3 separate regions of the Homo sapiens genome follow, and all the other regions are linked to region 1. A link means that fine-mapping ties the variant in region 1 to the expression of a gene that starts in the linked region. Tissue or cell type: prefrontal cortex. Region 1 holds a variant in brackets; each other region holds the start of a gene. All regions are shown on one strand. Distances are from middle to middle.

Evidence for each region. PIP is the estimated chance that this variant, and not a neighbour inherited with it, causes the effect.
Region 2: it holds the start of ZNF473, and the variant in region 1 is fine-mapped to the expression of ZNF473 in prefrontal cortex (BrainSeq, PIP 0.95).
Region 3: ZNF473-AS1 starts here. The variant in region 1 is fine-mapped to the expression of ZNF473-AS1 in prefrontal cortex (BrainSeq, PIP 0.95).

The regions. Positions count from the first base shown.
Region 1 is chr19:50,138,759-50,146,860 of GRCh38, forward strand. SNAR-B2 (small NF90 (ILF3) associated RNA B2) reads right to left here and starts at 479; the gene lies at 360-479. SNAR-D (small NF90 (ILF3) associated RNA D) reads right to left here and starts at 1,562; the gene lies at 1,444-1,562. It overlaps LOC105372436 (a long non-coding RNA gene), which reads right to left. Exons shown (of 3, transcript XR_936021.4): 2 at 5,269-5,357. The variant G/A (reference allele first, on the strand shown) is at 3,112.
Region 2 is chr19:50,021,282-50,029,383 of GRCh38, forward strand. ZNF473 (zinc finger protein 473) reads left to right here and starts at 4,724. Exons shown (of 5, transcript NM_015428.4): 1 at 4,724-4,841. It overlaps VRK3 (VRK serine/threonine kinase 3), which reads right to left and starts at 4,091. Exons shown (of 15, transcript NM_016440.4): 1 at 3,986-4,091. RefSeq lists enhancers at 3,397-3,898, 3,948-4,027, 4,368-4,417, 4,828-4,877.
Region 3 is chr19:50,041,018-50,049,119 of GRCh38, forward strand. It overlaps ZNF473-AS1 (ZNF473 antisense RNA 1), which reads right to left and starts at 3,672. Exons shown (of 2, transcript XR_007067295.1): 1 at 3,615-3,672; 2 at 5-1,857. ZNF473 (zinc finger protein 473) reads left to right here. Exons shown (of 5, transcript NM_015428.4): 4 at 713-802; 5 at 3,653-7,759. The coding sequence ends at 6,042.

The DNA.
Region 1 (8,102 bases):
GGTGGCTCACGCCTGTCATCCTACCACTTTGGGAGACCAAGGCGAGTGGATCATTTGAGGCCAGGTGTTCAAGACCAGCCTGGTCAACATGGCGAAACCCCATCTCTTGGCAGGCGACTGTAATCCCAGCTACTCAGGAGGCTGAGATAGGAGACTCCCTTGAACCGACGAGGCAGAGGTTGCAGTGAGCCAAGATCACACCACTGCACTCCAGCCTGGGCAACAGAGCAAGCCTCGGTCTCCCAAAAAAAAAAAAAAAAGAAAGATACATTGAAGTAATTTAAAAACACTTAGGAAGATGTCATTTCTTCCTATCAAGGCGTCCTCCCTTTCTGTTTTGTTGTTATATTGGGAACGATAAAAAAATTTTTTTTTCAACCCATGTGGACCAGGTTGGCCTCGAACTCGTGCCCTCGAACCCTCGCCTACCCTGAGGGTCCGAGGGCCCGCGCAACCGGCCGGAGCCACAATGGCTCCGGGTGTCGGGGCTGTCCTGTAGGCCCTTTGATCTTACGCAGGGTGAGGGAGCCAATCACCAGAGGCTCCCCCCTGTCGTCACCCAGTCCCCAGGGCCAGTGAGGGCCCTGCGTTCCATGGCGCCCCCTGGAGGGAGGAAGGGGAACTGTAGCTGAGAGTTCAGTATCTGACAATAAGGAAAAGGCATAGTAGATCAGATGGTGCCTAGTGTTCTGGAGAGAAGAAACAACGGGGTTGGCGAATTGGCAGTTGCACTTTATAATACAGGCCTCATGTATAAGGCAGACCTCATGGGGAAGGTAACATCTGTGCAGAGAAATGGAGATGAGGGCTAGGAGCCATGCAAATACTGGAACATGCTTGCCAGCAGAAGTCGAGAAACATGGCCGGCACAGTGGCCCACACCTGTAATCCCAGCACTTTGGGAGGCCGAGGCAGGCAGATCACGAGGTCAGCAGTTCGAGACCAGCCTGGCCAACATGGTGAAACCCTGTCTCTACTAAAAATACAAAAATTAGCTGGGTGTGGTGGCACACTCCTGTAATCCCAGCCACTTGGGAGGGTGAGGTAGGAGAATGGCTTGAACCTGGGAGGTAGAGGTTGCAGTGATGCAGTGAGCTGAGACCACACCATTGTACTCTAGCCTGGGCGACAGAGCGAGACTCCATCTCAAAAAAAAAAAAAAAAAAAAGCAAAAACAAACAGGTGAGATTCATTTTGATAAAATAGCTGATTTAACCTAATATACCTAAAACATCATAATTTTAACATAATATAAACATTTTTGCAAGATTTTATGTTATTTTTTACCATACGACGTCTTGGAAATCAAGAAACAGAGCAAGCCTCGGTCTCCCAAAAAAAAAAAAAAGATACATTGAAGTAATTTAAAAACACATAGGAAGATGTCATTTCTTCCTATCAAGGCGTCCTCCCTTTATGTTTTGTTGTTATATTGGGAACGATAAAAAAATTTTTTTTTCAACCCATGTGGACCAGGTTGGCCTTGAACTCGTACCCTCGAACCCCTGCCTCCCTGAGGGCCCGAGGGCAGGCGCATCCAGCCGGAGCCACAGTGGCTCCGGGTGTCGGGGCTGTCCTTTCTTCCCTTTCTCCCTCTCGTCTCCTGTCTCCCGTCTCCCTCTCCCCACGGTCTCCCTCTCCCTCTCCCTCTCCTGTCTCCCGTCTCCCGTCTCCCTCTCCACATGGTCTCCCTCTCCCTCTCTTTCCACGGTCTCCGTCTGATGCCCAGCCGAAGCTGCACTGTACTGCTGCCATCTCACTGCATCCTCCCTGCCTGATTCTCGTGCCTCAGCCTGCCGAGTGCCTGCCATTGCAGGCACACGCCGCCACACCTGACTGGTTTTCGTATTTTTTTGGTGGAGACGGGGTTTCGCTGTGTTGGCCGGGCTGGTCTCCAGCTCCTAACTGCGAGTGATCCGCCAGCCTCGGCCTCCCCAGGTGCGGGGATTGCAGATGGAGTCTCGTTCACTCAGTGCTCAATGGTGCCCAGGCTGGAGTGCAGTGGCGTGATCTCGGCTCGCTACAACCTCCACCTCCCAGCCGCCTGCCTTGGCCTCCCAAAGTGCCGAGATTGCAGCCTCTGCCCGGCCGCCACCCCGTCTGGGAAGTGAGGAGCGTCTCTGCCTGGCCGCCCATCGTCTGGGATGTGAGGAATCCCTCTGCCTGGCTGCCCAGTCTGGAAAGTGAGGAGCGTCTCTGCCCGGCCGCCATCCCATCTAGGAAGTGAGGAGCGCCTCTGCCCGGCCGCGACCCTGTCTGGGAGGTGAGGAGCGTCTCTGCCCAGCCGCCCCGTCTGAGAAGTGAGGAGCCCCTCTGCCCGGCAGCCGCCCCGTCTGAGAAGTGAGGAGCCCCTCCGCCCGGCAGCCACCCCATCTGGGAAGTGAGGAGCGTCTCCGCCCGGCAGCCACCCCGTCCGGGAGGGAGGTGGGGGGGGGGTGGTCAGCCCCCCGCCCGGCCAGCCGCCCCGTCCGGGAGGGAGGTGGGGGGGTCAGCCCCCTGCCCGTCCAGCCGCCCCGTCCGGGAGGTGAGGGGCGCCTCTGCCTGGCCGCCCCTACTGGGAAGTGAGGGGCCCCTCTGCCCGGCCACCACCCCGTCTGGGAGGTGTACCCAACAGCTCATTGAGAACGGGCCATGATGACAATGGCGGTTTTGTGGAATAGAAAGGGGGGAAAGGTGGGGAAAAGATTAAGAAATCGCATGGTTGCCGTGTCTGTGTAGAAAGAAGTAGACATGGGAGACTTTTCATTTTGTTCTGTACTAAGAAAAATTCTTCTGCCTTGGGATCCTGTTGATCTGTGACCTTACCCCCAACCGTGTGCTCTCTCAAACATGTGCTGTGTCCACTCAGGGTTAAATGGATTAAGGGCGGAGCAAGATGTGCTTTGTTAAACAGATGCTTGAAGGCAGCATGCTCCTTAAGAGTCATCACCACTCCCTAATCGCAAGTTCCCAGGGACACAAACACTGCGGAAGGCCACAGGGTCCTCTGCCTAGGAAAACCAGAGACCTTTGTTCACTTGTTTATCTGCTGACCTTCCCTCCACTATTGTCCTATGACCCTGCCAAATCCCCCTCTGCGAGAAACACCCAAGAATGATTAAAAAAAAAAAA[G/A]AAAGTGTTAATGACAGATTTGCCTCCATTAAAAGCCAAGAAAGTCAAATTATTCAAATTCTGTCTAGGGTATATATGAAAGATTTAAATGTAAAATAATGTTGTGAATTTCAACACATTTACTTCATTTTTCAGTATTTTTCAACTAGTTTAGCATTCCAGGAAAAATAAATTTAGAAAAAATATATAAAAACTTGCGCAGGGCACAGTGGCTCATGCCTGTAATCCCAGCACAGGCCTTTGGGAGGCCAAGGTGGGTGGATCACTTGAGCCTGGGAGTTTAAGACTAGCCTGAGCAACATGGGGAGAGCCTGTCTCTACAAAAATAATTTAGGAATTAGCTAGGCATGGTAGTGTGTGCTTGTAGTCCCAGCTACTCAGGAGGCTGAGGCAGGAGGATCCCTTGAGCCCAGGAGTTTGTTACTGCAGTGAGCTATGATCTCACCACCACACTCCAGCCTGGGCAATGGAGCAAGAACCCCTCTCCTTAAAAAAAAAAAAAGCAAGTATATGGGGGCACATACATTTCCTTTGAAATAGCAGTCTGATGTGGCATGAGACTGGCCTTTTTAAAAAATTTGATATTTTGTTCATCATTGATTTTTTTTGCATTGATTTTGATTTTTAAAAAATGTTGCATTATTATTGTTATTGTTATTATTGTCACTCTGTCACCCAGGCTGGAGTGCAGAGTCTCCCTGAGTTCAAGTGATTCTCCTGCTTCAGCCTCCCAAGTAGCTGGAACTACAGGCGTGTGCCACCTCACCCTAATTTTATTTTTTATTTTTATTTTTTTTGTAGAGACAGGGTTTCGCCATGTTGGCCAGGCTGGTCTCAAACTTCCGACCTCAAGTGATCCACCCACCTTGGGCTCCCAAAGTGCTGGGATTACAGGCGTGAACCACCGCGCCTGGCCAATATTGCATTAAATATTCTTTTATCTTGATTGCTGCATTTGGGGCACACATTTACATTTGGTACTGGGTGAATACAGCTCCCTCTGGCCAGGCTCCAGCCAGCCCCACTCCTCCAGGGTGAAGTCCACCGCCACATCCTTGAAGGTCACTGATTCCTGCAAGGGCCAGTTTCATTCTGTGGAGTGGCACGTCCTTCTGGAACTTGGGGGCAGAAGTGTCAGGGGTCAAGAGCCCACAACAGCCCCCTGGGCTGGAACATTCTGATTGTGCAGAATTGGGATGCCTGAATCCAACTGGCCTATGGGAACCTATCTAAGGCAGAAACTCGCCCATAGGCACCTTGGTAGAAAGTAGAACAAGGAGCCCTTTCACATGACTCTTTACTGCCATCTGTTGGGAAGTCATTGTAATATACCAATTAATTTAGTATATGACAGTTTATCAAACTGCCTGCAAACTGCCACCAATGTATGAGGTATAAGGTGGGAGTCCTGCCTGGGATGAGGCACACTTGTGCAGTGCATAACCTGCACAGCTCTAAGTGACAGCCCTAAAAAATGCTTTTTTTTTGAGATGGAGTCTCGCTCTATCCCCCAGGCTGGAGTGCAGTGGCGCAATCTCGGCTCACTGCAAGCTCCACCTCCCGGGTTCACGCCATTCTCCTGCCTCAGCCTCCCGAGTAGCTGGGACCACAGGCGCCCGCCACCACGCCCGGCTAATTTTTTGTATTTTTAGTAGAGACGGGGTTTCAACGTATTAGCCAGGATGGTCTCGATCTGACCTCGTGATCCGCCTGCCTCAGCCTCCCAAAGTGCTGGGATTACAGGCATGAGCCACCGCGCTCAGCCTAAGAAACACTTAAAGAAAAATCCGTCAAGCCGTTTTGTGCAGGAGATATTCGCAAGTCCCATTCTATCCCAGACCCCATCCCTGATCCTCACCCCCATTCCTGACTCCAGAGATGAGGCTCAGGGATGAAGCAAAACCATCCATTGCCCACTTTGCCTGGTAACTGAAAGGCTGCAGTGTTCGATGAAAAATGTTTAGACTGCGCGACATGGTCCCAGCTCAGAGCATTCTGCCTCTGCCTCCTGCCCCTGGGCACTGCCCGGCTCCCCTCTCCTCATACCCCCTTTCCCAGTATTGGAAGAGTCAGGAGACCTTGAGATCATGCACAGGGATGAAGAGGGCCCACTGGAGTCCACAAAGTTATCCTGGGGAAGAGGAAGCCCAGACTCACCTGGCCCTCGGCCATCAAGGTCCCATTGGCCATTGCTGGGTTCTGGGCATGTGCCTCTGGGAGAAGGGTTCACGCCAGGGCCCGAAGAGCTGGAGGAGGAGACCACAGCAGAAAAAGGGTCATTTGTGACCCTGACAGACAGATGCTTTCCCCAAGACTCCTGGTCACGGAAGGGGCCATGGTCCCCTAAGAGTCAAAGCAAAGTCCCAGGACAGGCCACCTGAGGCCCCCATTCCATACCAGTGACAACAGCCAGCAACCATGAGGCTGTCTCACCTCCCCGACACAACAGCTCTCGGACGTGGGAACGATGGTTACCCCTAGATGAGGACATTGAGGCACAAGAGGTCAAGACTTGCTCAAGTTCATGGAGACAAAAAGTTTCAGAGAAGTCTAGCCACAGGGCCACCCCTATCTTTTATATATATATATATATATATTGTTTTTTTTTTTTTTAGATGGATTCTCACTCAGTGTCCCAGGCTGGCTGGAGTGCAGTGGCGCCATCTCGGCTCACTGCAACCTCCGCCTCCCAGGATCAAGCAATTCTCTTGCCTCAGCTTCCTGAATAGCTGGGATTACAAGCACCTGCCACCATGCCTGGCTAATATTTACATTTTTAGTAGAGATGGGGTTTCACCATGTTGGCAAGGCTGGTCTCGAACTCCTGACCTCAGGTGATCTACCCACCTCGGGCTCCAAAATTGCTGGGATTTTAGGCCTGAGCCACTGTGCCTGGGCCAGGGGTTCTTATTTATTTATATAATTTATTATTTTTTAATAATACAGACAGGGTCTCTCTATGTTGCCCAGGCTGGTCGCGTACTCCTGGGCTCAAGCAATCCTCCCACCTCGGCCTCCCAAAGTGCTGGGATTACAGGCATGAGCCACCACACCCAGCCTTGGCAAAGATTCTTAAAACTTTATTCCATAAACTGGGACTTCCTGCCTGGTGGGGTAGACAGGCTGTATAACAGCCCCCAGAGATATCCCTGGAACCTACAGATCTTATCTTATATGGAAAAGAGACTTTGCGGAAGGGATTAAGTGAAGGATCTTTAGATGGGGGGAATTATCCTGGATTATCTGGGCGGGCACTAAATGCCTTCACAAGTGTCCTTATAAGAGGGGGCAGAGGAGAGTCTGACACAGGGCAGAAGAAGGCCATGCACCAGAAGCAGAGAGCAGCAGAGGCTGAGAGAGAGGACGCTACACTGCTGGCTTTGATGACAGAGGAAAGGGCTACAAGCCAAGGAAAGCAGGCCCCTGGAAACTGGCAACGAGGCAGCGAAACAGATCCATCCCTGGAGCCTCTGGAGGGAGCATGGCCGTGCTGACCCCTTGATCCCTTTGAATCCCGCTTCCAACTTCTGGCCTCCAGGATTGTAATATAATAAAATTGTGTCATTTTAAGTGTGTGGCAATTTGTTACAGCACCATGGGAAACTAATACAGTCCACAGAATGAAAAGATGCAGCACCTCACACACATTTCCCAGGCGAGAAGCCATACACATCCCCGGCTACACAGAACACACACACCTGAATGCTGAAACTAGTGCATGAGGTGTTTTTTTTTTTTGAGACAGAGTCTCTATCTGTTGCCCAGGCTGGAGTGCAATGGCGTGATCTCGGCTTACTGCAAGCTCCACCTCCCAGGTTCACACCATTCTCCTGCCTCAGCCTCCTGAGTAGCTGGGACTACAGGAACCTGCCATCACTCCTGGCTAATTTTTTTTTTTTTTAGGAGAGACAGGGTTTCACCATGTTAGCCAGGATGGTCTCAATCTCCTGACCTCATGATTCACCTGCTTCAGCCTCCCAAATTGCTGGGATTACAGGTGTGAGCCACCACACCTGGCCTAGTGCACGAGGTTTTGATGAGAAAATGAGGAAGAGAGTCTTAACTTTATCCCCATGAATCACTTGTTAATTACAAAAAGAACAGGGTAACTTTTTTATCTTATTTAAATAATTAATTTATTAATTTGGAGACAGGGTTTCGCTCTTGTTGCCCAGGCTGGAGTGCAGTGACTCAATCTCAGCTCACTGCAACCTCCACTTCCTGGGTTCACACAATTCTCCTGCCTCAGCCTCCCGAATAGCTGGGATTACAGGTATCCACCATGACACCTGGCTAATTTTTTGTATTTTTAGTAGAGATGGGGTTTCACCATGTTGGCCAGACTGGTCTCGAACTCCTGACCTCAGGTGATCCACCCGCCTCAGCCTCCCAAAGTGCTGGGATTACAGGCGTGAGCCACCACACCTGGCCTTATTTTATTTTTGAGACAGAGTCTTGCTCTGTCACCCAGGCTGGAGTGCAGTGAGGCGATCTTGGTTCACTGAAACTTCCACCTCCCGGGTTTCAAGTGATTCTCAGGCCTCAGCTTCCTGAGTAGCTGGGGTTACAGGAGCCCGCCACCACGCCCAGCTGATTTTTGTATTATTATTATTATTATTATTATTTGAGATGGAGTCTCGCTCTGCCACCTAGGCTGGAGTGCAGTGGCGTGATCTCGGCTCACTGCAACCTCCACCTCCCAGCTTCAAGCGATTCTCCTGCCTCAGCCTCCCAAGTAGCTGGGATTACAGGTGTGTGCCACCACACCAGGCTAATTTTTTTGTATTTTTAGTAGAGATGGGGTTTCACCATGTTGGCCAGGCTGGTCTCGAACTCCTGACCTGGGGTTATCCGCCCCCCTCGGCCTCCCAAAGTGCTGGGATTACAGGTGTGAGCCACCGCGCCCAGACCAGGGAAACTAGAGAGGAGAAACTTGGCAGATGCCACCTTACCCATGTGAGTGAGGCTGATGTGGTGTGTGGTGGGACAAG
Region 2 (8,102 bases), 120 kb before region 1:
AGTCAGGGTCTCTGTTCCTCCCCCTTTGGATCTCGGCAGAGCTGTGACTGCTCCTACCAATAGAGGACCGGCAGCAGTAAGGCCATGAGACTTCCCAGGCTGGGTCATAAAAAACAACTTGCACCTGGCTGGCTCGCTCAGGATGCTCACCCATGGAAGCCAGTTTCCACGGCATGAGGCAGCCTAAAGTAGCCCAGGCAGAGAAACCACATGGAGAGGCTCAGGTGGAGAGGAACTGAGGCCCCTGGCCAACAGCCACCATCAGCTGCTGGGTGAGTGGGCAAGTCCTCAGACCACTTAAACCCCAGCCTTCAAGTCTTCCTGCTAAGGCACAGGCACTGGGGAGCAGAAACAGGCCACCTCACTGTGCTCACTCTGAATTCCTGGCCCATAGGATCCATGGGCACAAGAAATGGTGGTTCTACACCAGTGAATTGTGGGACGATTTGTTCTCTAGACATAGTAACCGGGACAGGGAGTCCCTGCTGCACAGAGAGGTCAAGTCACTCACTTAAGACGGTTCTCATTTCATGACAGTTCAGTATGTGCAGACCACTGTGCTAAGTTCTCGGCAGGTATTATCTACAGAACCTTCCCAATCACCCTTTTCAAGGTAAGAATGATTTCCCCTTTGGGGAGATGAGAAGCAGAGGCTCAGAGAGCAAATGACTTGCCCAGGGCCACAAACCTCTTAAGCGGCGAGCCAGACACATGATTTTGTTTAATCTTTCCCTCCACTCTATGAGGTAGGGATGATTATCCCATCTTTGAAACCTACAAAATGATGCTCAAAGGGTGACAATTCTCCTTCCCCCAGACCTGACTCCACTCACCTAGAAAACAGTGGGGACGCAGCTGAAATCCAGAACCCAAAAGCCCATGTTCTTCACCTGGTGCCAATTTATACAACGAAAACGCAAAACCGGACTGGGTTCTTGGGGCAGCAGGTCAGAACATTCTTGTAGATTTAAATCTGGAAGCTGATGTTGGGTGTGGAACCACGGCAAGAGAGTCTTTTAACCATGTGCCACCCCCGGTTCTGACACCGTCACCAGCCTGGTCTAGGCCACCATCTCTCCCTTGTGCTACTGCAGCAGCCTCCTAACTAGACTTTCGGCTTCTACGCTTGTCCCTACAATCTATTTTCAACCCAGTAGCTTGACGGATCCACTTAAAATCTAAGTCAGACCCTGTCTGTGTCCCTGCCCTGGCCCATATGGTGGGTCGGACACGGTGGCTCACGCCTGTGATCCCAGCACTTTGGGAGGCCGAGGTGGGCGGATCACGTGAGGTTAGGAGTTCCAGACCAGCCTGGACAACATGGTGAAACCCCGTCTCTACTAAAAAAGTACAAAAAAAAAAATCAGCCGGGCGTGGTGGTGGGCACCCGTAATCCCAGCTACTTGGGAGGCTGAGGCGCAAGAGTCGCTTGAACCTGGGAGGCAGAGGTTGCAATGAGCCAAGATTGCACCGCTGCACTCCAGCCTGGGCAACAGAGCAAGACTCAGTCTCATAAATAAACAAATAAATAAATAAAATGTAAGTCAGACCCTGTCCCTCCTCTACTCAAAACCGTATGGTGGATTTCATTTTAGACAGAATAAATGCTGAAATTCCTACCATGGCCCAGGAGCCCCCTGTATGATCTGCCACTTCCCTGTTCCCTCTCTGACCTCTCCCACCTCTCCCCTTGCTCACGCTGAGTCAGCCACAACAGCTTCGGTGCTTTTCCCCAATCGTGACAAGAACGTTTCTTCCCCAAGACCTTTGCACCTGCTCTCCCATCTGCCTGGAACGCTGTCCCCCTAAGAGTGCACACAGTTAACTTCCTCATCACATTCTTTAGCTCTCTGTTCAAATGTCACCTTCTCAGAGACCTTCTTGGACACGATTTTACTGTGTTTTTTCTTTTCTTTTTTTTGAGATGGAGTTTGGCTCTTTTCGCCCAGGCTGGAGTGCAATGGCACGATCTCGGCTTACTGCAAACTCTGCCTCCCGAGTTCAAGTGATTCTCCTGCCTCAGCCTCCCATGTAGTTGGGATTACAGATGCGTGTCACCACGCCTGGCTAATTTTATATTTTTAGTAGAGATGGGGTTTCACCATGTTGGCCAGGCTGGTCTTAAACTCCTGACCTCAGGTGATCCCCCTCAGCCTCCCAAAGTCCTGGGATTACAGGCTCGAGCCACCGTGCCTGGCCCTGGACACCATTTTACTAATAGCATGTTTTATCCTCCTTACCTTGCTTTATTTTTCTTCACAGTGCTTGTCACTACCTGACATACTCTGACTTACTAGAATGTAAGCTTCATGATGGCGGGGACTTTTCCCTGCCTTGTTTGCCACAGTGTGCCCAGAGCCTCAAACAGGCCTGGCACAGAGCAAATGCTGGGTCTACGTCTGCTGAGTGAATAAATCATTGTCTCCTTTGCAAAAGAAAATGTGCCAAGAAGGTGGGTGGGGGGGGTCCCCAGCTGTGTCAGTACACATTCATCTCTCAGGCAAATCTAGACATCCAGCCAGAGACTCAAAGCTCAGGGCCGGAATTATCTAGCTGGATGGTCCCTAAAAAAGACGTGCCACTTAGAAGCAGATCAGTACAGGGGTTAAGAGGATAAACTTGGGAAATAATCTGCCTGGGTTTGGATCTTGCTTCTGCCATGTATTGCATGATGGACAGAGTTTTGCTATGTCACCCAGGTTGGAGAGCAGTGGCACGACCTCAGCTCACTTGCAACCTCCGCTTCCTGGGTTCAAGCGATTCTCCCTGCCTCAACCTCCCGAGTAGCTGGGATTACAGGCGCATGCCACCATGCCCGGCTAATTTTTTTATTTTTAGTAGAGATGGGGTTTCACCATGTTGGCCAGGCTGGTCTCGAACTCCTGAACCCAGGTGATCCGCCCACCTCGGTCTCCTAAAGTGCTGGGACTACAGGCGGGAGCCACCGTGCCCAGCCAAATTTTTTGGATTTTAGAACCTATTACATATTACAACACCGGCGAGATCCAGGGGCAACTCTCCATAAGTATATGATTTGCACAACAAAATCTTTAAAAATTCTAAATAGTCACACATCAGTTCAGAGTGGGTATTGCCAGCAAACAAGTTCAAAGCCAGGTGAGGTTGGCCTGCCAAGTAAGTTGCAAAACAGAGAAAAAGACCTTTCAGTTTTCAGAACGTTTTGGATTTTAAAGTTATAGATAAGGGACTGCAGACCTGTAAATATTCTTTAACATTTCTTTTTTAGTGTCTGGCATCCCCAACCACCCTGAGAATGTGAATTAGCTGGGCAGGATTTTTGTTTTAGACACTGCTATAATAACCTGGGCTTGAACAGTGCCTATTAGACTAGCACCGTTCAAACCCAGGTTATAGTAGTGTAATATCGGTTGCACGGAGCCTTCCATATAGTAAACGCTCAATAAAATTGGATGTGCTGAAGTCACCTATGCAATGGCCAGGTCAGGACTTGAAACCCTAAGACTCCAACCCTCAGGCCAGTCTTTATCTTAATTTATTTGACTTATTCAACAAATGTTTAGGGAACAGCTGCTATGCGTCAACTACTGTATAGTGTTCCTCCTAGAAAGTTCAGGAAACAGCACAGCAAAAAGGCTAAAAGTCAGACCCCACCTCAGCGCAGGTGGGGCGATTGCCTAGGCGACGACAGAGCCTCCCTTCGGCCGCACCTCCATAGAAACCACGGGATGACTTAGACGCCAAGTTTCACAGCGGAGGAGCTGTCGAACTTCCCACAAGTTCCGCCCATCTCCGCCTTAGCCATGCCCAACACGGAGCCCAAGGTGGCTTGGGAAGCTCAAGAGGAGGCCAGTGAACCCCGCGACCCGGAGCCGCTCTCATTCCGAACCCCGACAGCAGGGGCCTCCGCCTCCCACAAACGGTCGTGCTGACGTCACGGACGCCCCGGCCGAGCTGCGGCTAGGGGGTCGGGGGACGTCCCCTCGTTCGCCTCGCTTCCCCTCACCTCTGTACTTGGGGACTGGGGTGGGATTCTGGGCTTCTGCAGCCTGACCCTCGGATCCTCCGCAGTTACCCGGACTCACCTTCTCAGTTGCCCAGCGAAAACTTCCGCTGGGCGGAGAGCGCTGCGCGCGCATCCTGAATCTGAGGCGCCCGCGCAGGCGCCGCTGACTTCCTGACGGCCCCTGGGCTTCGCCTGCCTGGGAACTCCGTTTCCCAGATGCCTCCGCGGCAGGCCCGCCCTCTGATTCCAGACGGAATGGGGATTATTCCCTCATTGCTCATCCCCCTCCCCTCCGTTCTAGCCGCTTTGGAACGCCTTCTGGTTCTACTGCGCATGTGTCAGTGTCAGACCAATCGGAATGCACCGTGAGGTACCTCTCCACCAATCAGAGGTCACATTACCTAAACTTCTGCCTCAACTCCGCCCCTTACTTCCGCTTGTTTTCTCAGAAACCCGTCACAACGCGTTTCCATGGCAACCTACCGCTTGCTCTTCGGAAAAGGTTAACACTCCCTGACTTCTAGTAAAGGCAAGAAGCTAATTAGATGATTCTTTAACAAGGTAAAAATCTGGACTACAAACTGATGCCGCCTGGTCCTGATTCTCTTTCTACTCTACTCCCACAGTGCTAAGGCTGAAGAAGCAGGAGGAGATGGGAAGGCGAAAGAAGTCGCCCGCACAGCCCTCTGGGAAATAGAGTCCTGGCGCTGCCGCGGAGGATCCTGGGTGCAGCCGCTCAGAGAAGCTTCTCGCGCACAGGAAGTCGCTGCGAGGAGGCGCGTGTGCGGGGAGTTGAATCTCCCGCTCCCTTGAGGCTGGGGTTGCGTCTGTTGACGCGGCCGACTACAATCCCGAGGTACGGAGACGCTGGGGCTGAGGGACTTGCGGGCTCGGTCCTTCCTGAGAGGTGACGGAATGCAAGTGGGGGCGACTTCGGCAAAGGGTGCGTCGCCTTGGGCGGCGGTTGTCAGGGTGAAGGTGTGAACCGTCTTTCACAGTCTGTTATGAAAACCGCTCAAGGTCTGGGCACGGTAGATCACGCCTGTAATCCCAGCACTTTGGGAAGCCTTGGCGGGGGGGATCACTTACAGCCAGGAGTTCCTCGAACCCCCAGTCTCTACTAAAAATACAAAAATTAGTTGAGCGTGGTGGCGGGGGCCTGTAATCCCAGCTACTCAGGAGGCTGAGGCAGGAGAATCGCTTGAACCCAGGAGCTGGAGGTTGCAGTGAGCCGAGATCGCGCCATTGCACTCCAGCCTGGGTGACAGAGCGAGACTACATCTTAAAAAAAAAAAAAAAAAAAGAAAGGAAGAAAACCACCTTGGGAGGCTGAGGTGGGCGGATCGCTTGAGCCCAGGATTTCGAGGCTAGCCTGGGCCAGATGGTGAAGCCCTGTCTCCACAAAAGAAGAAAAAAATAGAAAAATTAGCCGGGCGTGGTGGTGCGCCCCTGTATTCCTAGCTAATTGGGAGGCCGAGGTGGGAGGATTGCTTGAACCCAGGAGGCAGAGGTTGCAGTGAGCTGAGAAAGAAAAGAAAAGAAAAGAAAACTGCTAAAGGGGTTTCCAGGCCTCCCTGATGGCCCTGAGAGGAGTGGTTCTGTTTTATTTTGGTTTTGGTTGGGGAAGGAGGGGAATGAGTTACCTGAAGTTGGCAAATTTAGGCAGAATCTTGCTGGACGATGGATGGGAGTTCTTCGGGAAGTTGAAGTACTTAACATTTACAGTATTTGAGTGCTTTCTGTGTGCCAGGCGCCCTGCTGGAGTTGCATTTCCTCTTCTGATCCCCGCAGCAGCACTGAGACATAAGTGCAGGTCCCCTTGGCACCAAGGCAATCTCGGGAATCAGAATTTTTCAGATTTTAGAAAGCTAATAGGGTGCATATTTTATAATTAGGCAGCACCCCCCCACACCCCGAGGAATCTGGGCCAGTTTTTGGTCATAAAATGTTTCTGTGGGGCAAGGTGTGAATATTCACACTTATGAGAACATTAAGACCCTACATGGCCTGTGGCAATCCAGGTGAAGTTTTGCGGTCAGTTTATAAATCAAGTTCTGGTTTTTGGAGCATTTAAAGGACCATAGATCTGTTGTATTTGTTCCATTTGGTACATGTGGAAACTAAGGCTTAGAGAAGGTAAATGGTCTGGAAGGAAGGGCAAGACTCTTGGGCCCAAGGTCTCTCAGCCTGATAATTGTTTGGCTTAAGTCACTCTGGGCTGGATGACCTTGGGCTCCACCTCTGGGCCCTCGTTTCTTTCCTCCCAGAGCTGAGAGTATATGAGATGTGGGCAGAATGTGATTTGGTAACTGCAGACAGGGATCTCAAGCTCAGCTGTCTGTGAGGGCCAGGCAGATGACATACAGGAAAGAAGAGAACTGGTCCAGGTGAGGCTGCGGGGCCTTGGGGAGCACTTGCCTCATCTGAAGGGGAGAATTGTGTTTTTTTTTTGATGACAGAGTCTCGCTCTGTCACCCAGGCTGGAGTTCGGTCTCACTGGAACCTCCACCTCCCCGGTTGAAGCGATTCTCCTGCCTCAGCCTCCCAAGCAGCTGGAATTACAGGCGTGCACCACCATGCCTGGCTAATTTCTGTATTTTTGGTAGATACGGGGGTTTCACCATGTTGATCAGGCTGGTCTTGGACTCCAAACTTCAGGTGATCCGCCTGCCTTGGCCTCCCAAAGTGCTGGGATGGCAGGCATGAGCCACTGCACCCAGCCGCTTTTTAAACTTAAATTTAATTTTTTTGGCCGGGTGTGGTGGCTCATGCCTGTAATCCCAGCACTTTGGAAGGCCGAGGTGGGTGGATCACGAGGTCAGGAGATCGAGACCATCCTGGCTAACACGGTGAAACTCCGTCTCTACTAAAAATACAAAAAATTCTCCGGGCGTGGTGGCAGGCGCTTGTAGTCCCAGCTACTCAGGAGGCTGAGGCAGGAGAATGGCATGAGCCCGGGAGGCAGAGCTTGCAGCGAGCTGAGATCGCGCCACTGCACTCCAGCCTGGGCGACAGAACGAGACTCCGTCTCAAAAAAAAAAAAAAAAACAAATTTAATTTTTTTTTGGAGGCAGGATCTTTCTCTGTCATTCAGGCTGGAGTACAGTGACACAATCATAGCTCACTGCAGCCTTGAACTCCTGGGCTCAAGTGATCCTCCTACCTCAGCCTCCCAAGCGATCCTCCTACCTCAGTCTCCCAAGTAGTTGGGACTACAGGCACGTGCCACCACAACTTGCTCATTTTTAATTTTTTTTTTTTAGAAACAAGGTCTTGTTACGTTGCCCAGGCTGGTCTCGAACACCTTTCAGCCTCCCAAAGTGCTGGGATTATAAGCATCCCCCACTTGCCTAGCACTGGTGGGGGAGCTTTAAATGGGCACCAGTGAACTAACTTCGTGGGATGTAGACCCAATGTTGCCAAATCCTAGGATGTTTCAGAAGTTGGAAACATAATTTTTAGGTGAAATTTCCCAATTTTCAAGTTTGAGACTAGTGAGCCATGCTTGAATTTTCTTTCAAAACATTCTGTCTGCCAACAAACATTATGGGCCAAATATCTGTCAACTGAGTTATACTCGTAGGTTGAGGCTTAACCTCTGACATGTAGAAAAACTCATTGTTCAGTAGAATTAGCATTTATTGTAGGTCTACCATATTCCCATATTTGTAGTCTCAAAAATCTGGACAACTCAGAACAACAAATTTTTTTTCATAAATTTAGTGTCCGTGCCTTACCTGAACTACTACAGGGTATTTTTTAAATATAACTTTAAATTATTCTACCTAGAATGAACGATGATACTTTTCTCTAGGGTAAAGTGTTCAATTATGAAATGCAGCCTGATCCACACTGCGCTGGGACTTTGTTTTGTTTTGTTTTTGTTTTTGTTTTTGAGACGGAGTCTCGCTCTGTCGCCCAGGCTGGAGTGCATGGCGCCATCTCGGCTCACTGCAAGCTCCACCTCCCGGGTTCACACCATTCTCTCGCCTCAGCCTCCTGAGTAACTGGGACTACAGGCGCCCACCACCATGCCTGGCTAATTTTGTTATTGTATTTTTAGTAGAGACGGGGTTTCACCGCGTTAGCCAGGATGGTCTGGATCTCCTGACCTCGT
Region 3 (8,102 bases), 98 kb before region 1:
TGGCTTCCACCAGCACACTTTTATTATGTTACAGTCCTGGAGGCCAGGAGTTCCAAATGCATGTGGCTGGGCTGGAGGCGAGGTGTTGGCAGGGCCACCATGTTCCTTCTGGAGGCTCCAGCACGTAGATAGTCCTTCCTGGCCCGTTGCCAGCTTCTGGAGGTCACCTGTATTGCTTGACTCATGGCTTCTCAGTCTTCAAAGACAGCAGTGGCGTTTTCTCCGCTGTGGCCTGTATCCCTCCTGGATGGTGACTCTGTTCCCTTCCTTGGGGAAGCTTGTGGAGGGTATGGCTCAGGACTGCTTGGGCTCTGGGACCCTGACATTTTCTGTCCCTGGCCCATGGAGGCCTCAGGCAATGTGTGGCCCATGGGTCAGTGAATAAATCATGAATGGCTAAGGAAGTACGTGCCTCTCCACCTGGCAGATCCTGCCCATTAAAGAGCTGTCACAAGTCCTTTGTATCCCCAGCCCCAGCTGTCACAGCTTTGATCACCCTGGATTGTGATTGTTTGGCTCCCTCTCCATCACTGGACTGGGAACCCTACAGGACAGGCATCCCCAGAGTCGCCCAGTGCAGCACCTCGTCCACACACAGGAGCCACGTGCAGGATAAAGCATAGAAAAGTCAGGAGAGCCAGGAGGTTCTCACTGAGTGTCTGGATGGTCCTCCATGTCCTGGTTGGGTGACAATGCTTTTCTCTCCCTGCAGACCCCCCAAGACCCAACCTGACCTCCCACCCAGATGGCAGTGAAGATCTGGAGCCTCTGGCAGGAGGAAGCCCAGAAGCAACAAGCCCTGGTGAGTGGATGGAGAGGGGCCCCTTGTGTACCTTCTGTCTTCCAGACCTCCATCCTGAGGCTGCAGCCAGCTTTCCCACAGGTCTACCGAGACATTACAACGCTCAGCTTCAGGACTTCACTCTGCTTCTCGCTGGCTTCCATCCCCTTGTCCTGGGAGCTGGGGGGATCAGGACATTTTTATAGACCCTCACTCTGGGGTCTCTCTACCTTGCCCTTCAGCACAGGGTTATCCTGGTGCCTCTCCACAGCTCCTCCTCTTTCCTTCCAGACTCAACAAGGGTACGCCCTCCACTCTCTCAGTTGGTCTCTCTACTTTCCTGCCTTGTGCTCCCTGAGTGTGTTGACCCTCATTCTACTTCTTTTACCTCCTTTCCTTCAGGCCCATTTTTCCTTCCTATCCCTGGGGCATAGCAGATGGCCACATCAGGGAGTAACTTAAGCCCAGGCCTGAATGCTGCCAAGAGCATCTGCCCTGCCATCTCCCAAGCCGGGGTTCCTCCAGGTGGATCAGGTTAGGTGGTGAGGATTCCTGGGGTATTACCCATGGTAGAGACGTCCCCAGCATGAGAAGCAGGGCCCTGAACCAGAGACCACAGGAATCTCAGGCTGTACCCCATCCAGTCAGTCTGCAGCTCCCTTCTTGGCTCACCACGCTCAGGCTCGTGTACATGAGGCCTCTGCAGCCTCCTCTTCAGCACATCAGTGTTCCTCATAGGTGACTAACTCATGCACAGGCTCTCACAACTTCTGCTTTCTGTTTCTGTCACCTCAGCATATTGGCTGTTTCCAAACATAGGTAGCCATGCCTTTACTAACAAATATACCTCCATATCCTCTAGTAGTGACACTTGAGTTGCATAGTTACCACATAAGCGTCTTTCCCCTTTAACAGCATGCCGCTCTTGGAAGCAGGGCTTAGCTGATTCACCCTGTATTCCCAGCTCCTGACATCATGCTTGGCATATAAGGGGTGCCTATTACATGTCTGTTGGTGCATTTGAGGCCGAGGGAACAACATGAGCACAAGTGTGGTGAGGAGAGTGAGCTGGATATCTGTGGGAGAGATGAGCAGAGGCAAAGGTGACAATTCAGAACAAGATGTGGTTTCAGAAGGCTTTCATTTGCAAGTTTTAATTCCAGGCAGAGAGACTTTAAGCAGTCTCATAGATACTCAGATGGTGAGCCAAGAACTGCACAAGGGACAGGCTGGAAAAGGTATGATGATGGAGGAGAGGAGAGATGGGGAGACTGGAGGCATACAGCAGAGCAGTGACATTCATGTTTTGTGAAGGATCCCAGAGAGCATACAGCTTGGTAGTTAAGAATATGGGGGCCAGGCGTGGTGGCTCATACCTGTAATCCCAGCACTTTGGGAGGGCGAGGCAGGCCGGTCACTTGAGGTCAGGAGTTCGAGACCAGCCTGGCCAACATGCTGAAACTCTGTCTCTACTAAAAATACAAAAATTAGCTGGGCGTGGTGGAGGGCACCTGCAGTCCCAGCTACTCGGGAGGCTGAGGCAGGAGAATCACTTGAACCCAGGAGGCAGAGGTTGCGTTGAGCTGAGATCGTGCAGCACTTCAGCCTGGGCAACAGGGCAAGACTCAGTCTCCAAAAAAAAAAAAAAAAATATATATATATATATATATATATATAGTCAGAGGGGTTCAAATCCTCAGTCTTCTGCTCACTTACCTGTAAGAAAGCAGAAACGTGCCTACCTTACAGGAGGTTGTCGAGTGTAACAGAGTGCCTGAGGCACTCCTGCCTGTGAACAAGCATACCATGAATGGGAATTACTCTGTCCTGTGAATCTTTCTCGTGGCCGCCTCTGTGGCAGTGGATGGATGAGCAGTGGAAGGTCCCCATTAAAGAACTTACCTTCTGGTAAGGGTCAGGGGTCAGACCCTTTCATAACCTGTTATGGTAGAGGATGGTCAGTGCTCAGCTGGTTTTCAGAGAATACAGGGCAGGGGACTTAAAGCAGAATGGGGATGGGGTTGTCAGGGAAGCCTTTCAGAGAAGGGTGATAAGCTGGGTATTAAAAGACTTAGAGGAGTTAGTCCAGGAAGTGCCATCCAGCATGAGGGACCATTAAAGGCACAGAGGAGAAAGTCTGGTGGATTTAGGGAACCGCAAGAGTTCTATGAGGTCAGCACAAAGAACACTGGGCTAATACACTCATTTCTTTTCTCCAGGCAGGAAGCCATGGAAGGGTTTAATCAGAGGAGTGATATAGTCAGATCCATTAACTACAAAGCCCTTTAGGGCTAGTGTGGAAGACTAGAGAGAGAGAGAGACAGACAAACAGGAGACCAATGAGCAGCCTGGGGTCAGATGCTGAGTCAGTGATAAAGAGAGGAGAGGAAGGGAGTTGAGACATTTCGATAGAGACCAAATGAAAATAGTGCCAAGTTGAGGGAGGTAGGGAGGAGGTTGACTCCCAGGATTCTAGCATGGAGAACTGGATGGATGGTGGTGTGGGGAGAGCGGGGTGTTGTCTGGGATAGAGGATGCAGGATATGAGGAGGAAGATTTTGGTGACAGTACAGGATAGAGTGGAGAGTAGAAGCAGGTGAGTCCAGGCGATTTTTTAGGGAACTTGGTCAGTCACTTAGGTGTGAAGGTAATGGTAGAATCTCCCTCCTCGTTGAACCCTATGGTTTCCCAACTCCCTTCTTGACCCTCCTGGGAATGGGCTCTGTCTGTTTTCTGTGATGCCAGTTCCACATGGGTCACCCCTTTGGGTCCCTTGATGGATAGGCTGGACTCAAGATCTATCACCCCTACTTGCTCTTGTCTGTGTTCTCACCCTTAGTGAACAGGAGACATTTGCACTTGCTCTTTCAGATGTGACTGAGACCAAGAACTCTCCTCTGATGGAGGATTTCTTCGAAGAAGGATTCTCCCAGGAGATTATAGAGATGTTATCCAAGGATGGCTTCTGGAACTCCAATTTCGGAGAAGCCTGTATAGAGGACACCTGGTTAGATAGTTTGCTAGGCGATCCAGAAAGTCTTCTGAGGTCTGATATTGCCACCAACGGGGAAAGTCCCACGGAATGCAAGAGTCATGAATTAAAGAGAGGACTCAGTCCTGTGTCCACCGTTTCCACGGGAGAAGATTCCATGGTGCATAATGTTTCTGAAAAGACCCTCACACCAGCTAAGTCTAAGGAATATAGGGGTGAGTTTTTCTCCTACTCCGACCACAGCCAGCAGGATTCTGTTCAGGAAGGGGAGAAACCATATCAATGTAGTGAATGTGGGAAAAGCTTCAGTGGGAGTTACCGTCTTACCCAGCACTGGATCACTCATACTAGGGAGAAACCCACTGTCCATCAAGAGTGTGAGCAAGGTTTTGACCGGAATGCTTCCCTTTCTGTGTATCCGAAAACTCACACGGGCTACAAATTCTATGTGTGTAATGAATATGGGACAACTTTTAGTCAGAGTACATACCTGTGGCATCAGAAAACTCACACTGGAGAAAAACCATGTAAGAGTCAAGATAGTGACCACCCACCCAGTCATGACACACAGCCTGGTGAGCATCAGAAAACTCACACAGATAGTAAGTCCTACAACTGTAACGAATGCGGCAAGGCTTTTACCCGGATCTTCCACCTTACTCGGCACCAGAAGATCCACACTCGGAAACGCTATGAGTGTTCCAAGTGCCAGGCGACCTTCAACTTGAGAAAACACCTCATCCAACATCAGAAAACTCACGCTGCAAAAACTACCTCTGAGTGTCAGGAGTGTGGGAAGATTTTTAGGCACAGTTCGCTGCTCATTGAACACCAGGCTCTTCATGCTGGAGAGGAGCCTTATAAGTGTAACGAACGTGGGAAATCCTTCAGGCATAACTCTACCCTAAAGATCCATCAGAGGGTTCACAGTGGAGAGAAGCCTTACAAATGCAGTGAGTGTGGGAAGGCCTTCCACCGGCACACTCACCTTAATGAACATCGGCGAATTCATACAGGCTACAGACCCCACAAATGTCAGGAATGCGTCAGGAGTTTCAGCCGGCCCTCACATCTGATGCGACATCAGGCCATTCACACCGCAGAAAAGCCCTATAGCTGTGCTGAATGCAAGGAGACTTTCAGCGATAACAATCGCCTTGTGCAACACCAGAAAATGCACACTGTCAAAACCCCATATGAATGTCAGGAGTGCGGAGAACGCTTCATTTGCGGCTCAACCCTGAAGTGCCACGAGAGTGTTCACGCCAGAGAAAAACAAGGATTTTTTGTGAGTGGGAAGATCTTGGATCAGAACCCAGAACAGAAAGAGAAGTGCTTTAAGTGTAACAAATGTGAGAAAACCTTTAGCTGCAGCAAATACCTAACTCAGCACGAGAGGATTCACACCAGGGGAGTGAAGCCCTTTGAATGTGACCAGTGTGGGAAAGCCTTTGGCCAAAGTACTCGGCTCATTCACCATCAAAGAATCCACTCTAGAGTGAGGCTGTATAAATGGGGTGAGCAAGGGAAAGCCATCAGCAGTGCCTCCCTTATCAAACTTCAGTCCTTCCACACAAAGGAGCACCCTTTTAAATGTAACGAATGCGGAAAGACCTTCAGCCACAGTGCACACCTCTCAAAACATCAGTTAATTCACGCTGGAGAGAATCCCTTTAAATGTAGTAAGTGTGACAGAGTCTTCACCCAGAGAAACTACCTTGTTCAGCATGAGCGAACTCATGCCAGAAAGAAGCCGTTGGTGTGTAACGAATGCGGGAAAACGTTCCGTCAGAGCTCATGCCTTTCTAAGCATCAGAGAATTCACTCAGGTGAGAAGCCCTATGTATGTGATTACTGCGGGAAGGCCTTCGGCCTGAGTGCTGAGCTTGTCCGCCACCAGAGAATTCACACTGGAGAAAAGCCTTATGTTTGTCAGGAATGCGGGAAAGCCTTCACCCAGAGCTCATGCCTTTCTATTCACCGGAGAGTTCACACTGGGGAGAAGCCCTACAGATGTGGTGAATGTGGGAAAGCCTTTGCCCAGAAAGCAAATCTAACACAGCACCAGAGAATTCACACAGGGGAGAAGCCTTACTCCTGTAATGTGTGTGGCAAAGCTTTTGTCCTCAGTGCCCATCTCAACCAGCACCTGAGAGTTCACACCCAGGAGACACTTTATCAGTGTCAACGTTGCCAGAAAGCCTTTCGGTGCCACTCGAGCCTCAGCCGCCATCAGCGTGTACACAACAAGCAGCAATACTGCCTGTAGCCATTGGGTGGCAGCAGAGTCCCAGAATATGAGACCGTTACTCGGATGTTGAAAGTTGGAAACTATCCCATTGCAAGTTTCTCTCCAAATAAATGCATCTAAAGATTGATTAGAAAGTTTGTGCGCATGTTTTTCATTATAACAATGAAAACACAAAAGTGGAGAAGCTGTACAACGTCAGGATTCAGAGGTAGGCTCTGGAGCCAGTCTACCTTGAGTTAAATCCCACCTCTGCCATCTACTACCTAAGTGACCTTGGGAAGGTCAGAAAAATCTCTCAGGGCCTCGGTGTCCTTATCTGTAAAATGGGCATCACCTACCTCAGAGGGCTTTTCTGAGGATTAAATAAATAAATGTGAAGCACTTAGAACTGATGGCCAGCACATGAGGGCTCACCAAGTGTAAGCCACAAATACACATCAGCTATAGCACAAATATACTTGTGTTACAAGAAAGGAATTAGTAATCTGTGTTTACTGTAGTTAATGTTCTTACAATGTATCGCTTTTAATTTAAGTTTTCCTTTTTTACAGTTTTTCTCCAGCACTTTACTCTTCTTAAGTGCCTGGCCTTTTTTGTCCCTTTATCTCTCCTGGTTTTTTTCTTAAGCCCCAGAAAGCCAAAAAGAACATGTAAACTCTTCACCTCAACTAGCTACAACCTTCCACTCCTAACCTCCCAAGCTTCTCACTTAAAGAGGACTCCCTATCCCACAAACACATGCTCCCTCTTCCTATGACCTTCCTCCATTTAACAGTGTTGGTTATGCAATAAGACACCCAATTTTTCATGGGAGTTGACACCAAAACACAGCTGGATTCCATCAGGAAAGCTGCATTGATCAGGGTGTTAACCGCATATGAAACAACCCATATGGAAGACATACTTAGGGGTCAAACCTGTGGTGTGTGGAAGTGACCACTGGGATGTCATCATTCACCATTTATCCAGGATGGCCGCTCACCAGGCAATTTGCTAGGCTCGGGGGCGGGTAGTATCCATACACTATGCACTACTGCTCTGAAGCTTCTGGAATCAGAAATGAACCCATTTTCATCGACGATTGCTGTTAGTTGACAAGTGACATCTTGAAAATGCCACATTCCCTCATGTCACAGGAAGTTCTGGGATCACCAAGGATTGTTGGAGAGTCCAGTGAGATGGAACCACACAACCAGTTCCCTACCAGTGTCTTGTCAGCTCTGGGTGTTTGTTCCCTGCCACTAAGTGGCTCAGTCACACCTTTGCTGAAACACAGTAGTCTTATGAAAAGCACTGGACACATACTTTGAATACCTTTCATATTTTAGGTGCTGAAAATGGTGAGGGAGTGAGTGCTCTGCACCCTTGGGCTTTTCAACTCTTGCACCTGGAGTTCTGCTGGTTAAGTTTGTTAAACTTAGTTGAAACTGGGAACCTGTTGGCTAACCATTGGGGCCTTACACTGTTTTTCAAATGGTTGCAACATTTAACTTCTCGCACATGGTTCCCGTCCTCTGGAGCTCTGTCTTGTCGGGGAGATGGGCATGTTGTATACCAAAAGAGTGTACAAAGTGTTGCAGGGCTGTGACACAATAGGGACTCTATGGAAAACTGGCAGCCATTGGGTGTGGGGGCAGTCTGTAAATCAGTCACCTGTGTTGCTGCAGGCCAAGGTAGAAACGCCCTCCGTGTGTGCATATTTGTTGGTTCTCTGATTAAAGTTTTGAGTCTAAAAGCATTGGTTCCTTCTCTCAGCCTGCTGCCATGCAGCCACGCATCAGTCCCTGCCTGCCAGGCCTCACGTCTTTGCTGGGGAGGGCTTCTGGTGGCGATCAGTAAGAGGGAGCAGCTCAGTTTTCCCACTGTCTGGGCGGGGCATGCGCCACTGAGGAGGCACACAAGTTCAGCTGGTCCTCAGATGCATCATCAAACAACACTTTTCAGTCTGTGTGTGGGCCTAAGTAACCAAGGAGAGAGCACAGGCAGCCTGCAGTTCACTCTTCACAGACATGTCAGGCCCCAGGCTTGGGGAGTGTTTCTAATTAGCATCCAGTAATACATATAACTTTGTTTATACT